Regions from separate parts of the Homo sapiens genome. Here region 2 is linked to region 1. A link means that fine-mapping ties the variant in region 1 to the expression of a gene that starts in the linked region. Tissue or cell type: whole blood. Region 1 holds a variant in brackets; the other region holds the start of a gene. All regions are shown on one strand. Distances are between the middles of the regions.

The links. PIP is the estimated chance that this variant, and not a neighbour inherited with it, causes the effect.
Region 2: it holds the start of COG4, and the variant in region 1 is fine-mapped to the expression of COG4 in whole blood (GTEx, PIP above 0.99). The same link has a PIP of 0.9 or more in breast, lymphoblastoid cells, thyroid and transverse colon.

The regions. Positions count from the first base shown.
Region 1 is chr16:70,449,111-70,451,866 of GRCh38, reverse strand. No RefSeq gene overlaps it. Among named protein-coding and RNA genes, the nearest start is that of FCSK, 4.1 kb to the left of the region's middle. The variant A/G (reference allele first, on the strand shown) is at 1,651.
Region 2 is chr16:70,522,100-70,524,599 of GRCh38, reverse strand. COG4 (component of oligomeric golgi complex 4) reads left to right here and starts at 1,046. Exons shown (of 19, transcript NM_015386.3): 1 at 1,046-1,227. The coding sequence starts at 1,057. It overlaps SF3B3 (splicing factor 3b subunit 3), which reads right to left and starts at 784. Exons shown (of 26, transcript NM_012426.5): 1 at 672-784. RefSeq lists enhancers at 1-240, 1,274-1,413.

The sequences.
Region 1 (2,756 bases):
GAGCCACAGTGCCCGGCCGCCAATGGCCAATTTTTTAAATACAAAAATTAGCCAGGCGTGGTGGCAGGAGCCTGTAATTCAGTTATTCGGCAAGCTGAGTCAGGAGAGTCATTTGAAGCCAGGAGGCGGAAATTGCACTGAGCTGAGATCGTGCCACTGCACTCCAGCCTGGGTGACAGAGCGAGATTCTGTCTCAAAAAACAAATAAAATTTAAAAAAAAATAAATTTACAAAATAATGAGGCTGAGAGGCACTGAGGTCAGTCACAATGGAGATGGACCCTGCTCTAACTCTGTGTAACCATCTATAAAGTAAGTTAATAATAGTATCAAATATCTGAGATTGTTGTGAGGGTAGGATAAATGCTTGACTCCATAGTAAATACTCAAAAAGTATTAACCATTATGATTATCGTCATTATTCCCATCCTGCTCCATTAAAGCAGGATGTTTGGTTTGTTCACCATTGTATCCTCAGGCCTTAGAACAGTGCTGAGGACATGGTAGTGAGAGGTGACAGCGTGCTGGTAGTCCTCACAGCCCTCGTTCGCTCTCCGCGCCTCCTCTGCCTGGGCTCCCGCTTTGGCGGCACTTGAGGAGCCCTTCAGCCCACCGCTGCACTGCGGGAGCCCCTTTTTGGGCTGGCCAAGGCCGGAGCCGGCTCCCTCAGCTTGCAGGGAGGTGTGGAGGGAGAGGCGTGGGTGGGAACCGGGGCTGTGCGCGGTGCTTGCGGGCCAGTACGAGTTCCGGGTGGGTGTGGGCTTGGCGGGTCCGCACTCGGAGTAGCCGGCCGACCCTACCAGCCCCGGGCAATGAGGGGCTTAACACCCCGACCAGCGGCTGCAGAGGGTGTGCTGGGTCCCCCAGCAGTGCCGGCCCACTGGCGCTGCGCTCGATTTCTCGCCCGGCTTTAACTGCCTCCCCGCGGGGCAGGGCTCCGGACCTGCAGCCCGCCATGCCTGAGCCTCCCCAGCCACGCCGTGGGCTCCTGTGCCGCCAGAGCCTCCCCGACGAGCGCCGCTCCCTGCTCCACGGCGCCCAGTCCCATCGACCACCCAAGGGCTGAGGAGTGCGGGCGCAGGGCGCAGGACTGGCAAGCAGCTCCACCATGCAGCCCCAATGCGGGATCCACTGAGTGAAGCCAGCTGGGCTCCTGAGTCTGGTGGAGACGTGGAGAACCTTTATGTCCAGCTCAGGGATTGTAAATACACCAATGGGCACTCTGTATCTAGCTCAAGGTTTGTAAACACACCAATCAGCACCCTGTGTCTAGCTCAGCATTTGTGAGTGCACCAATCCACACTCTGTATCTAGCTACTCTGGTGGGGCCTTGGAGAACCTTTGTGTCGATACTCTGTATCTAACTAATCTGGTGGGGACGTGGAGAACCTTTGTGTCTAGCTCAGGGATTGTAAACACACCAATCAGCGCCCTGTCAAAACAGACCACTCAGCTCTACCAATCAACAGGATGTGGGTGGGGCCAGATAAGAGAATAAAAGCAGGTTGCGGAGCCAGCAGCGGCAACCTGCTAGGATCCCCTGTGGTATTGGGGAGGTCTTGTTATCTCGCTCTTGGCAATAAATCTTGCTGCTGCTTACTCTTTAGGTCCCCACTCCTTTTATGAGCTGTAACGCTCACCGCAAAGGTCT[A/G]CAGCTTCTAGTCTTGACGCTAGCAAGACTAGGAGCCCACCGAGAGGAACCAACAACTCCCGACGCACTACCTTAAGAGCTGTAACTCTCACCGTGAAGGTCTGCAGCTTCACTCCTGAGCCAAGGAGACCACGAACCCACCAGAAGGAAGAAACTGAACACATCCGAACGTCAGAAGGAACAAACTCCAGACGCACCACCTTAAGAGCTGTAACACTCACGGCAAGGGTCCGTGGCTTCATTCTTGAAGTTAGTGAGACCAAGAACCCACCAATTCCGGACACAGTAGGTGGTTAAAAACAATTGATTGGCCAGGTGTGGTGGCCCACACCTATAATCCCAGCACTTTAGGAGGCCGAGGCAGGAAGATCACCTGAGGTCAGGAGTTCGAGACCAGCCTGGCCAACATGGTGAAATCCTCTCTCTACTAAAAATACAAAAATTAGTTGGGCATGGTGGTGGGTGCATGTAATCCCAGCTACTCAGGAGGCTGAGGCAGGAGAATCGCTGGAAGCCGGGAGGTGGAGGTTGCAGTGAGCTGGGATTGCACCACTGCACTCCAGCCTGAGCGACAGAGCGAGAGACTTTGTTTCAAAAAAAAAACCCAATTGGTTGAATGAATGAAGAGCAACCTTCTGCTCAGCTCTCGCCACCCACCTTCTCCTCACACTGTCTGCTTCCCTCAGTCTTCTCCCACTGGAGTCATTCTCCATCTACACTTGGCCCAGGTCTCATCCTCCTTCTCCCACTTCAATGCCTGCTGTTTCTTCTGTGAACCTAGGAGGCCTCCAGGGAGGTGATGAACTGCCTCTCACTGTTGCTGTTCTCAGCAATGCAGGTCCTGGGCTCTGCAGTGAAGTGGGAAGTAGGGATGCCTGCAACTGCGGGTTTGGTGGGGGCTCAAGAAAACAGTGTGCCCCCAAGGAGCTTAGAGGCCTTATGCTCCACCCTATACCTCCTAGGGCAGTATGGTTAGTAGAGGAGAGGTAGCTTCCAGGCTGCTCTGGCATCTCCTTGCCTGAGGAGCAAAGAAACTCAAGGAAGGTTTTTAGTAAAATGAAGCCCTCAGTGCAGCAGCAGACCCAAAAATCTGTACGTGGCCTCAC
Region 2 (2,500 bases), 73 kb before region 1:
AGAGATGGCAGTGAGCCGAGATCGCGCCACTGCTCTCCAGTCTGGGCGACAGACTGTGACTCCGTCACAAAAACAAAACAAAACAAAACAAAAAAAACTTCCCCCACGTCTGTTTACCATTATTACAAAAAGCTTGTATGATTGCTCACTGCATCTTCTCCATCCTCCAAGGAAACATCATCGCATTTAAACTCTGTCCTCCATTACGCAAACGAGAAAATAGAGGTTCAGAGGAGGAGACAAGTTGCCCAACTACCAAAATACAAATTCAAACCGGAGTCTTGGCTCTAAAGACTGTTTCCGTTATTTACGCTTTTAACACGCTCCATCTTTCTATCTTCCCCTCGGTGTACCATTTACTCTACCCAGAGGGAGACATCCATGCCTCCCGCTGCTTGTCACACCTCCCCCGTCTCAGAGTCCCCAGAAGTTAAAAGCAATCTCCACGAGCCCTATTTTGAGATAGAATATGTTCCCACACTGTGGATGGAAGCGAGAGATAACTGCAGGAAGCCGTTTTGGCGCCTCAACCATCCCTCGGTACCTCCTCCTGGTCCCCAGCCTCTCGGGCCTAGACTGCCCGTGACCCCCGCCAAAGTCTCGGGTCCCCCTTCCATATGGCCGGTCTCCGCCTCCCCGGGCCCGGGGAAGTCTCCAGGCTGTTTTTTTACCCTGCAGCGAGAAGGATGGTGTGGATATCCAACGGATGCTACCTCCCTTCAAAACTTAAGCCACCACCAACTCCAACATACTGGCGTCCGCCATTAGACCTCAAGACAGGGACATTCTGGTGGCGCGCGGCGGAAAAAGGCACCCAATCCGCGCCTGAAGAATATATATAATTTTTAAAAAATGCTTCCGTCTTGCTTCCACACGGCATTACAAATTATTTAAACATGCTTTATTGCTTTGCTTTTTCCAGGAGAATAGAAAATTAATACGTTTTTAGAAGTAGACTTTAAAAAAAAAAAACCATTAGAGTTCATTGGGCACTTCTGTGGGCAGCCCCAAATAGGCGCCAACGAAGAGGGGGCCTCGCGGGACCGGAAGTGCCGAATGGGGACCAAGATGGCGGACCTTGATTCGCCTCCGAAGCTGTCAGGGGTGCAGCAGCCGTCTGAGGGGGTGGGAGGTGGCCGCTGCTCCGAAATCTCCGCTGAGCTCATTCGCTCCCTGACAGAGCTGCAGGAGCTGGAGGCTGTATACGAACGGCTCTGCGGCGAGGAGGTGCGGGGTCGAGCCTCTTCTTTTTCATGGAGGATCTAGGGAGAGTGGGAGCCTTCAGTCGGGAAATCCGGGCTGTGGGAAACTCTCCTTGCTGGGGGATACAAAAAAGCGGGAAAACAAAGAAGCGGAAGCTAGTCGGGTATATGAGTAGTCCTGTCAACTCTTTTCACGCTGTCGGACGCGCCGAGCTTGTCTTCCCTGATACCTGGGCGATCTGCAGCCTCTCCTCCCTAGACCCCCGTTGATTTCCCTGATCCATGATCACCAGTTTCTCCACGGGAGTAAAGTTAGTCTGAGAGTATTTGCCAAATTGCTTGGTTCTCAAAATAATAAGCGCCCTTTTGCATTGGCTTAATTTACAAATTATGAAACGCTCTCATCCTGTTATTTAAGAGGGAAGCCTTTGCAGATTAACTTCTTGAAGCGTTTTAAGACTTCCTCTTGTGGGGAGTGATTTGGGGGTGTGATTTTAGCGTTTTGGTCAAATGCACATCTTTGTAGAGGTTTAGCTTTTAAGACTCAGACACAATTCTCTAATCTTGGACAAGTCACTTCATCTCTGGTACCCTTGATATTTTATCAAATGAGGGGTGTGGACTATTCTCCAATTCCTTTCAGTTCATAACGTTCTATTTCCTGCCTCCTTTAATTTTCAGTGGCAACTCGATGCTGTCAATTCACTTTCGAATGTCAGTTGGGTTCCTTGCTAGTCAAAAGAGATCTAAGCTCTAAGCTTGTCAGCTGTTTCCCAGACCAAACTTCTAGCAAAGTTGAGCACAAAAGGCAGTTTCAGCCTGAGGGAGAGGTGATCGTTGATATCTTTGAGTATTTTCAAGTATAAACTTGCACTAACTCTAGCAGTTTCTGATACGTTTTTCAGCAAGATGTGTGTGGTGTTTTTTGTTTTGTTTTGTTATTTTTAGAAACAGGGCCGCTCTCTGTTGCGCAGGCTGGAGTGCTGTTGTGCTGCAATCAGAATGGATGAAACCAGAGGCGCACACCACCGTGCCTGGCTAGTTTAGTGTGTGGGGCTTTTTTTGTCTGGCCTCAGCAAGATGTGTTTTAAAATTTAGTATCTTGCGGGGCGCGGTGGCTCACGCCTGCCATCCCAGCACTTTGGGAGGCCAAGACGGGAGGATCACCTGAGTCAGGAGTTCGAGACCAGCATGACCAAAATGGTGAAAACCATCACTACTAAAAATACAAAACTAGCCGGGTGTGGTGACGCATGCCTGTAATCCCAGCTACTCGGGAGGCTGAGGCAGGAGAATTG